2 separate regions of the Homo sapiens genome follow, and region 2 is linked to region 1. The links come from fine-mapping of genetic effects on gene expression. Tissue or cell type: thyroid. Region 1 holds a variant in brackets; the other region holds the start of a gene. All regions are shown on one strand. Distances are from middle to middle.

What was found. PIP is the estimated chance that this variant, and not a neighbour inherited with it, causes the effect.
Region 2: it holds the start of ATXN7L1, and the variant in region 1 is fine-mapped to the expression of ATXN7L1 in thyroid (GTEx, PIP above 0.99).

What each region holds. Positions count from the first base shown.
Region 1 is chr7:105,702,142-105,708,220 of GRCh38, reverse strand. All of the region lies in intron 3 of ATXN7L1 (ataxin 7 like 1), which reads left to right. Among named protein-coding and RNA genes, the nearest start is that of EFCAB10, 120 kb to the right of the region's middle. The variant C/T (reference allele first, on the strand shown) is at 2,550.
Region 2 is chr7:105,873,683-105,879,163 of GRCh38, reverse strand. ATXN7L1 (ataxin 7 like 1) reads left to right here and starts at 2,565. Exons shown (of 12, transcript NM_020725.2): 1 at 2,565-2,786; 2 at 3,284-3,352. The coding sequence starts at 2,606. RefSeq lists a silencer at 2,313-2,522.

The sequences.
Region 1 (6,079 bases):
CTTTGATGCAGACACGGAACAGTACGCAGGCCTCTGGGTCCACAGCCAACTGTTCTCCACGACACTGTGGAGTTTTCTCCTCCTTCTTCCTCCCTTCTCACTTCAGCAGAGCACGTCCTTCCTCTTAGATCAGAGATAAAACACTTCGCGCCCAGTCTGGCAGTGCTGACAACAGCAGCCACGTATTTTATTTCTTTGCTTTATTTATTTATACCCATCTTTGTTGCAAAAGGATTTAAGGCCACTTATAAAGTTGCAAACAACAGAACAAGATAAAATAAATTTAAAATAAGTGAGAAAGATGAGACACAGGAATAAGTAGCTTCACTGCAACTTTGCCCATTGCTCTCCTGTTAGAGCTGTTGAGCTTCTAGCCATTAAATCAGAGTGATGGGCAATGATTTCTGTACTCATGCCCTGTACTCAGCACTTCAGTGGATTTTTCTCCTGGGCTTGTTTTAGAGCCTCTCCCCCTTTGGGATACAAATGCCCTTTTAGGTCACTTTGGGAAACATAGAAGTTCTCTGCAGGAGGTCATGTTCGCAGGGTGTGACCACAGTGGTGATAGGGTTGTTGCTGTGTTGTTGCTCTTTTAAGGCCAAGCAAGAGAAGACAGCTAGTTCCTAACTAGAAACTTTAAGCTGTTGGAGCTGTCCAGAATCGATGACTTTCTTGGCTTCTTTGGTATGCCCTGCATACCAAAGGCTGTGAGGAGGAGGCTCAGACTGCAGCCAGGGTTCAGCCCATAGCCCAGCCTTCCTCCATCCCCCACTCATTCTTCATCTTTTTTGTACCATTTTGACCTCTACCCAAGCTCAGATCTCTTGGTTCCGTGAGCCCATCTTCCTCGCTGCCTTGACTTCTTCATTCAAGGAACCAGTGCACCTTCTCTGCTCTCAGGACCTCCACTTCTTCCCACAAACAAGCCTTGGTCCAACTGGCTCATTGCTTCATGTGTGCTGTCTAACTCCCTGGACCTTGTCCCTTTAGAATTCAACCCACCGCCTGGGTTGGGTGGCCTCTTCCATTTCTTCTAAGATGCTGCAAAATTAATCAAATCTAACTCCACCAGGAAGCCCAGTATTCCTGATGGCTCTTACCACTAGAGATGTTTGGAAAATGTTCATTTGGGGGCTGTTGTGGTAACTGGCATCCATCGGAGTAGAAGTGCTAAATGCTGTGCATTGCATGGAACAATTCCACCCAACGGAGAATTAACCCTCTTAAAATGCCAGGTGTGTTCCTGCTAATAAGCACTGATAAAAGCACAAAGAAAACCTAACTATTTGCCATTGTACAATGGCATCAGAGCAGCCACACTGCAGATTTCTTGGTTGATGCCCAAGAGTTTAGTGGGAGGAAATCACTAAATTATTTTTATCTGCATTTTGAAGGGGTCAGGCTATGCTGGGAATTGTTTTTCATTAGGCCAGAGTCCCACAGTTGGATCGAGCTATAGCTCTGCTCAGGTCATTTGTTGGTCTACATCGGGGACCTAGAAGCCACAGAGTTGGTGAGTGCAGCCTGTCCTTGGGCGCTATCAGATCACCCCAGTCCCCAGAGGGGATGCTGGTGGCTGGCATAGTGATGGAGAACTGGCCACAAAGGAATATCTTTCCAGAGGTTTGTTGTTTTTGTTTTTGTTTTTGTTTTTTTTGGTGGTGGTGGTGGTGGTGTTTTTTGCTGTAACAGGCAAAGGAGCAGAACACTCAGAATTAAATGGTCTGTTGTCTCATAAAAACCAACTATGTAATCCCAGCACTTTGGGAGGCCAAGGCAGGCGGATCACTTGAAGTCAGGAGTCCAAGACCAGCCTGGCCAACATGGTGAAACCCCATCTCTACTAAAAATACAAAAAAATTAGCTGGGCATGGTGATGCACGCCTGTAATCCCAGCTACTCCAGAGGCTGAGGCAGGAGAATCACTTGAACCCGGGAGGCAGAGGTTGCAGTGGGCTGAGATAGTGCCACTGCACTCCAGCCTGGGCGACAGGGCGATACTCCATCTCAAAAAAAAAAAGACAAAAACAAAAACAAAAAACAAAAACAACTATGATGCTCTTAAAGTTAAAAAATAAGCACAGTGGCTAAGAGAAATAATTCAGTTTAGCTAGCTCTCAGACCACTGCAGACTGCTGCCCACTGATCCCTGCATTTCTCTCTTGCTTTACTGTGGATTGGCTAATTATTTCCTGATTTATTCATTTATTATCTAACACACTTGGAGTGCCTGCTATGTACCAGTACTAAGAAAAAGTTCCTGACTTGGGCTCTTTATATGCGAAGAAGGGTGGCAAATCTATCTGTTACTACGGAGCCACGTGCCAGGTGCTAAGGTGGAGGTGTGCTCAGTGGGTCCAGAGAGCAGAGAGAAAGGGCTTCAGGTGAGACCTGGCAGAGGTTCAGGATAGCAGGGAATCTCCTAAGTGTCCCAAATGCGCTAATGTTTGAGCTAGATCCTGAAAGAAAACAAGGAGTTAACCAAGGTGAAGAACAAACGAGTGGACCAGGATTCCAGAGAAAGAACACTGTGCACCAAGCCACAGAGG[C/T]GTGAAACAAAAGGCTCTCAGTTGTCTAGTGTGGCAAGTGGCAGGGGTGCATGGGGGGAGGGTGTCGGAGTGGTGCCCTGGAGACAGGGAGAGCTGCGACAGATTCCTGGGGACGGATCCTTCTGCAGCTCAAAGATAGGAGAGGCCCTTAGACATCCCTCAAGGCCATATGTCAATCAAAATAATTAAAAGTAAAAGAACCGGAAGGCAGGCTTATATATTCCAACATCCATCTAGTTTTTCCCCCAAAAAAAGCTTTTGATAAAATAAGATGAAGTGCCAAAAAGATGCATGTGTTCAATAGCGCAGCAGAAAGTGAATAGAGTAAAAGTAATAAAAAATACTCGGCCGGGCATGGTGGCTCACACCTGTAGTCCCAGCACTTTGGGAGGCCAAGGCAGGTGGTTCACCTGAGGTTGGGAGTTCAAGACTAGCCTGGCCAACATGGTGAAACCCCATTACTACTAAAAATACAATAATTAGGCAGGCGTGGAGGCACGCACCTGTAAATCCCAGCTACTTGGGAGACTGAGGCAGGAGAATTGTTTGAACCCAGGAGGAGGAGGTTGCAGTGAGCCAAGATCATACCATTGCACTCCAGCCTGGGTGACAAGGCAAGACTCCGTCTCAAAATAAATAAATAAATAAATAAATAAAATAAAAAATAATCTCTACAAAACTGAGTTATTGCTAATTCTGGGTAGCACAGCACAGGAGAGTGTGCTTGGGTTTGGAGTCTGACAGAACTGAGTGCAAGTCTTGGCTTTACTAACTTGGCTAATGCCACTGTACCAGCACTTTGGGAGGCCAAGGGGGGCAGATCACCTGAGGTTAGGAGTTTGAGACCAGCCTGGCCAACATAGTGAAACGCCATCTCTACTAAAAATACAAAAATTAGCCGGGTGTGATGGCACATGCCTGTAGTCCCAGCTACTTGGGAGGCTGAGGCACAAGAATCACTTGAACCCAGGAGGCGGGAGGTTGCAGTGAGTAGAGGTTGCAACAAGCTCAGATCGTACCACTGCACTCCAGCCTGGGCAACAGAGCAAGACTCTGTCTAAAAAAAAAAAAAAAAAAAAAAAAAAAAGAGATAAAACCTCTCTGGACATTGGTTTCCTCATCCAAACATGGGGGTGATGATACCAATCTCATTGCATTATTGTGTGAATTAAACAGTATCATCCCAGTGGTTTTTACTATTAGCCTGTTATTTGTTGCTTTTTGAAGTACTAACTTAATCAGGGCAAAGAACAGGTTGTGATCTGTGCAGATCAGTTCTCATTAGCAGAATAAAGAACAATCACAGATTACAGTTAATAAGCCAGATCTAGAAATGACAAAATTCTTTCTTATTTTATTCATTTGACAAATGTAAATTACACATTTCCTGTGGGCAGGCACTTCATGAGGCTTATAGTAGTGAACAAGACAGACCCCGTCTCTGCTTTCCTGAGGCTCAAAATCTGGTGATGAGGAAAATGTACTAAGGGATCCCTTCCTGAAGTCTACCCATTTCAGATTCACCAAGTGGCATGTTTGTTGTGGACCAACCTAAAGTGGTTTGGCCACATAGGCCTCTTGGGTTCTCTCTGGTAGGACACAGTTGCCAGCGTAAAAGGTTGTAAAAGATAGATGTGGTGAGGGTCAGCTTCTCCCGCACAACCTTGCAGTTGTGAATACCATGTGAATGAATGTGGGTATGAGACTGAATTCTGCCACAGATGCAGGCATTTATCAAACAAACGTTTATTGACAAGTAGAAACAAAACAGTTGATTCAGCTTGTTTGGGAAGCTTGACAAAGGCCCAGCCCTCTCTCCTTTGAGGTTTTCCAACCACACCTGACACGAAAGGTTCGCCCTAGGCAACTACAAGAATCCTCTAGAGAGGGGACACTGTTACACTGTTTTCCCAAAGCAGCATCATCCCCTCATAAACCATCCAGATTTGGTGGCTGGACACAGGGCAGCCCAGAGCACCATCCCTGAAGGGACAGGCCTGGCTGGATTCTAATACCTGTTTATACAAGGGTGGGTAGTGTCTCTCAGGGTTTTGGCCAGGCTACATACCTTGAATACCGTTAATTGCACCAGTAAAAAGCCTGTTTCTAGCAGTGATTATACTAAGTCACAAGTTTCAACAATAAAACCCATTTTTTGTGTTCAGAATGTTGGACCAAATATGGATAACAGAAAAACTTAAACTGGCCACATTTGGAATGTGGCTCACTTTGATTAATACCAGTTGCCCAATCTAGACTTTGTATTCTTACTGCCTGCAAGCTGATGACCTGGAAATGTAAAGCCTAGACTAACTTCCACAAACAATAAAATACAAGTTATACTTAAGTGCTTTTTTTTTTTTTTTGAGACGGAGTTTCGCTCTTCTTGCCCATGCTGGAGTGGAATGACGGGATCTCGGCTCACCGCAACCTCTGCCTCCTGGGTTCAAGCGATTCTCCCTTCTGCAGCCTCCTGAGTAGCTGGGATTACAGGCACCTGCCACCACGCCCAGCTAATTTTTTGGGGGTTTTTTGTTTGTTTGTTTGTTTGTTTTTGAGACGGAGTCTTGCTCTGTTGCCCAGGCTGGAGTGCAGTGGCAAGATCTGGGCTCACTGCAAGCTCCGCCTCCTAGGTTCACGCCATTCTCCTGCCTCAGCCTCCCAAGTGGCTGGGACTACAGGCGCACGCCGCCACGCCTTGCTAATTTTTTGTATTTTTAGTAGAGACGGGGTTTCACTGTTAGTCAGGATGGTCTCGATCTCCTGACCTTTTGACCTGCCTGCCTCGGCCTCCCAAAGTGCTGGGATTACAGGCATGAGCCACTGCGCCCGGCGGCAATTTTTTTGTATTTTTAGTAGAGACGGGGTTTCTCCGTGTTGGTCAGGCTGGTCTTAAACTGCAGACCTCGGGTGATCCGCCTGCCTTGGTCTCCCAACGTGCTGGGATTACAGGCATGAGCCACCACGCCAGGCCTCAAGTACTTTTTATTTACTTATTTATTTTTATTTTTTAATACTCTAGCACTTTATAGGCATTGTTACCCTGCTGCATTTCTCTTTCCTATTTAAAAGATGTGATTCGCCCTGTGTGTGTGTGTATGTGTGTCTGTGTGTGTGTGTGTGTGTTGTGGGTCTGTGTGTGTGTAAGGGGCTGGGTTATATCTAAAGTGACCAGAAGTCCTAATTTGCCTGGGAGAGTCACAATTTATACCTCTTGCCCTGGAGCCCATCCATTTAGCACCCCCTTTTACTTTCAAAGCTGTCTAGTTGGGATGATAAATTATATGATTTCTGTATTTCTAGAAAGAATGCAATGGCACAGAATAAAGAGAACAAACCCAGGAAAACTAGGTTTGGATCCCGTCTGTACCAGTCCCCATAGGGTGGCCTTGGGCAAGTTGCCCCACCTTAGATTCCTCATCTGTGAACTGAGAATGATGCTTCTGCTCGCCCTCCCTCCCTAGTCAGTTTTCTGTGAGATACCAGTTATGCCACGGATGCAAATGAACTTTGTAAAGAGAAAAGCACTA
Region 2 (5,481 bases), 170 kb before region 1:
TACACAAGGGCATGAACACCAGGAGGTACAGACCTTTGGGGCCACATTAGCTGCTGCCTACACCTTCCTTGCATGCACAACAACACAGGAATAAACATCAAAATAGATAATAAATAGAGGGAAAATAGGGAAGCAGAAGGGAAAGGGAAAGTGTTCCAGCATCTAATTACTCATGCCTCAGAGCTCTCGCATTCTCTCTCCCCACCTCTAAATCTAGCCCAACAGCACACCCTCTGATCAGGTGCTCTCTTCACAGTCTCACACCTGTCTCCTCTTCTCTACCTGCATAGCACCACCAAAGTTCAGGCTTTCATCTCTTCACACCATGAATATTGCAGCACTACTTTTCTAACCAGGCTCCGTACTCCAATCTTTCTAACTCACACTTTTAACTTATCTTTATGGTACAGAAAGCCCTTCAGTAGCTCCCCATTGTCAAACAAAATCCAGACTCTTTAGGCTGCCGTTTGGTGCCTTCCATAATTTGATCCAGGCCTGGGTATCAAAATGCATCACCCCCAAGCCCCCAGTAACAATTCTCCATCCCAGGCAAACCATGCTCAACACCCAAACACACCATGTTTATACTCAGCTTGAAGCCTCTGCTAATACCATTATTCCCCCTCCCTCCGCAAGACCAGTCTTCACCTTACCATTACAAATCTTTGGCAATTTCCAAGATGCAGAGCAGAGCCCATCTTCTGTTACGCAGTTTCTGTTCACTCCTAACTAGATTTCGGTTCCTCTATGAACTGGCACAGCTGAGAGACCACCCCACCCACTGCACAGGCCAGTCCCTGTGTACCTGCCTGTTTTCCCAAGGAATCGGTAAGTTTCACAACTTCCTTCTTCCAGAGACCACCAGACTGCATCTCTGTGAGGGTGAGGATGGGTCTCACTCATCTTTCCCTCCTGACAGGAGGGCACAGCTGTTCCATGACAGGCAATATTGGTTGACTTAAGATGGACAGATGGAAGGAAGGAAGGAAGGAAGGAAATGTCAAGCCCAGGGTCTAGCATATAACAAGAGGTCAACAAGTAATACATATTTGTTAACACCACCAATTCTTACAATGGGAATTCTTCACCCAGCGACACCTTAGCTATGTAGGAGCCCTTCGAAAGAGAGCAAAGGCAAATGCAGTTTATCTGAGTCTGACACAAACAAGCCGACTCACACAAACATCACAACTAAAGGCAAATCCGCAGCTCCTCCTTCATCGCCCATCCTAACACTGGCTTAGCGATACAGGGTGCCAAGCTCAGGGAAATTATTAGATGGTTCAGCCAGGGCAGAACTCAGTCAGTACAAAGCAACTTCCAATCAGTGCGCTTCAGCTGTGACAACTTGGGAAACAGCAGTGGTGAGAGCTAAAAGGGTGCTGGCGAAAGAGAAAAAAAAATATGTCGCTTGTGGGGTGAGGGCGGTGTCCATATAGTTTAGATAATTCTAGTAAACAAAAGGATTTGTTAAAAAGAAGTAACAGAAGACTTTTTAAAGCCTTCTTTAAAGGGTGAAAATCTCAACTAAAGCACCCAACGTCCAAAATCCAGAGGAAATCTAGCGCTCCCTTTCTAGCTGGCTAGAGCAGTTAAGCCTGAAGTGAATTCTCCCAGGAATCAGATTCCTGGCCAAAGGTTGCCTGCGCAAACCCGGGCCACCCTCGTCTCACGGCAGGGAGCGCTGGAAACGGCTCAGGGGCTAGGCCCGTTAGCGTCGTCTTCCAAGAGCCGTAAATTCGCCCTCCCGCTCTGCTGACCCTGGAGCAAAGTCCATGCAGTGGTTCTCTGAGAGCCGGAGATACGCACCGCGCGGGGAACCCGGGGGTCCGGGGGCCCTAACTTTTGAGTTTTGCACGCCCCGCAGCCTGAGATGGGAAGGTAGCTCGTAGCGCTCCAAACTCACCTGCGTTTCAGAACGACATCTACCCACTGGTTTCAGCTCCTAGAGCAACAACTGCAGAATCTCCATGGTCCAAAGTCCTCCAGGAAAGAGAAGAAAGGGGTGACGGGGGTGAGGGCTGGGAGGCGAGGTCACCAGGGTCCCTTCCCTGGCTCGGGTGGGGGTGGGGGGCGCAACCCCTCACGGCTCCTCCCCACCAAGCCGTCGGGACCCCAGCGGGGGCGCCTCGCGTTGGGCGACAGGGACGCGGGGAGAGAGCGACAAGCTGGAAGCAAGGGCTGCCTGCAAAACTTTCGGTCCTCCAGCGGCAACTCTGCGGGAAAGACCACCCTTCCTTCGGCCCCGCGTCGGGCCTATCCCCGTGTGCCCCGACCCCTGCGCCCCAGGCTTGGGCGGCGCCGCTGCATCCCGGCTGCCGGGCGCGCTGCAGCCTTCGCTCTCCCGCACGCGGCGCTCGCCCGTCCGCGCTGCCCCTCCCCGGCAGGCGGGCGGCCCCGGCGGGCGGGCGGGCGCGGACTGCAGGTGCCTCTCTGCTGCCCCTGGCGGCCGCGGGCGCGCGAGCCCCACCGAGCCGGCTCCGGGAGCCCGAGCGCCCGCCCCTCCTCCGCTCCCTCTCCCCTCCTCCTCCGCCGCCCTCCTCCCATCCCGCCCTTCCTCCCTCCCTCCCCCTTTCAGAACACTCAATGTCGGAACGTTCCGAAGATGACGTCGGAGCGTTCTCGAATCCCGTGTCTCTCGGCTGCTGCTGCCGAAGGAACAGGGAAAAAGCAACAAGAAGGAAGAGCAATGGCGACACTGGATCGCAAAGTGCCCAGTCCGGAGGCGTTTCTGGGCAAACCCTGGTCCTCCTGGATCGACGCCGCCAAATTACACTGCTCCGACAGTAAGAACCCCACCACCTCCTCCTCCTTTTATTATCCTGTAACCTTTCCATTCACCTAGAGCCACTGGGAAAAAGTGTGTGTGTGAGAGAGAGAGTGGCCCCCGGTGTCCTCCATGCTTCTCCCTCTCTCTCTAAATAAATACACACAGAGACAGATCATCAATGCACAGGGAGAGGCCCGGCTGCCAGGGCTGTCTGTCTGTCTGTGCCCGGCTCCCCGTGGCAGCCCGCGGGGTGGGCTCGCAGCCCCACGGTGTTGTCCGTTTAAAAGGCTACTTTGTTGCTGCTTGCATAGTTTTTTGGGTACCTATCTGGGCCAGGTAGATGGAAACCCAGACTTGGGAGAAAATGTTGCATTGTCAATTTTTGAAAGAATTTCATATACAGTATTTATATCGATCTGTTTGCAAATAAACACTCTCCCTCCCCCCTTGACTTTGGCTTTTTTCCCCCCTTTTTTCCTTATTTTCTGTTTTCCTTTTCTTTTTCATCTGCAGATGTAGATTTAGAAGAGGCTGGAAAAGAGGGTGGAAAAAGCAGGGAGGTTATGAGGCTTAATAAAGAAGGTAAGTGGAGCTACTGGCATTTTAGTGTTAGCATGTGTGGCAGAATCTTCACAGGATTTCGAATATAATGTGAATTGTTCTGCTGGGTACAGAGTGACTAAGGCTTGTCAAAAATTGAGCACGCCCAGGTGACTACTGCTTCATGTTAACTTCTTTCAAAGTATAAATACAACTGGGGGGGGGGTAAAGGGGGGTGAGACTGTTGAAGGCAGAAGTTTACTGCACTTCAGTTGGACTCCACGTTTGAACCTTCTGATGCATATCTGCCATTCTCCTTGGGAGCATCATTGCCAAATGGTGGGGCGTTAAAATTTCTGAAATGAAGAGTGGAGTTCCCTTCACAAGCATCCCAGCCTTTCTCGTGGGTGAATGCACAACAGCTTAATGAACCCCACATGGTCAGTCATTCCAGCAGCTACTTCTCCACTCACCACTGAAAACCATTGTACATGGCAAACCTTTGCAGCAAGTTACATTTGGCCCACTTTGCATTTGGTCACAGATTGTTATGTGGCAAGCAGGGTTAGGAGCATCTGTATGTGCAGCCCCTCAGCAGTCATCATCTCTCTTTTCCCAGCATGGAAATACGGTACCTGAAATGGGACACACTGAGTAGATAGGTCATCCCAGACCAAGATATGCAAGAGAAGCCACAACCTGCTGCAATTGGGCATCAAACACATATGGTCGTCATAAATAAATCATATCCTGTTCTCATTTGCAAGCCTGCCGTATGTAACTCTGGCCTATGGGCTTCAAATGGAGCAACTCCGGGGGCCACTTGCTGCTAAGCAAATAGGTGGATTCATTTGAATTGTGATTCACTAACTGATGTCTTATAAACATAATTGGCTGAAATTGGGGGTGGGAAGATGGCACAAGGGGACAGAAGAGGTTGGTGGTATTGAAAGAGTTCAGACATAAGTAGGCCATAGGTGCATTGGTCATCCCAAATGAATGGAGAAAAGGCCATTAGATGCCAAAGAATGGTCCCCCTCATAAAAAGGGATGTCACCCTGGAAGGCAGCTGAAGCCTGCGTGGAAAGATGGAACTCATTTTATGAATCAACACTTCAGATGGTTGGTTTTCTGTGCCCAATCATTTCCTGACCATCCACTGAGAGGAAATTTTGTGCTTCAGAAAAAATAACATGAAGGTTAAAATGCGTACATATTCAAGGACAGTTCCCTAGCATAATGTTTCTGCTAATTAAGCACTTTGGGAACAAAACATTATTCTAAAGATGTTTGCTTCTAAATATCTTAGTGTGATCTTGACAGGTGTCTTCAGGATGCACGAGGGATTGATGTCAAGTGGACTTCTTACAAGTGGCAGCTTATTTGTGTTAAATGTTCATGTGTGTTGGCAGTGGGAAGCATCACTAGAGATTATTTTTCTTCACACACAAACTCTTGAGATCTCTAAGTGCTTGCAAGACCCAGTTATCAGGCTACTGGCAACGTGTCCATAAAAGATGATGAGGCTGTGGAAATCTTTAAATTAAAGTTGAGTAAAGGTCATGGTATAGCACAGGATTGTCACCTCTCAGGTCTGGGTGATGCGTTATGACTATCACACACAAAACTCACATCCTTTCCCCCCAGTCCCTGTTTCTATTTCAGAAGACTGTTGTTCTCAGATTCTCTTTGCCTCATGAGAAACAGATTTTTTTTTTTTTTTTTTTTTTGATACGGATTCTCACTCTGTCGCCAGGCTGGAGTACAGTGGTACGATCTTGGCTCACTGCAACCTCCGCCTCCCGGGTTCAAGCGATTCTCCTGCCTCAGCCTCCTGCATAGCTGGAACTACAGGCACGTGCCACCACACCCAGTTAATTTTTGTATTTTTAGTAGAGACGGGGTTTCACCATGTTGGCCAGGATGGTCTTGATCTCTTGACCTCGTGATCTGCCCACTTGGCCTCCCGAAGTGCTGGAATTACAGGCATGAGCCACCGTGCCTGGCTGAGAAACGGATTCTTTTAAGAAAAAATGAAAAGCTCTCCTTTCCTCAGAAGTCACAGGTGGTACATCCCGCTTATTAGGTCCTTTGTCCTATAAAGGTACGAAGATTTAGCTCCTAATTATACATATTTGCATTAAGGACACCCACTGTTCAGTGTAACTTGA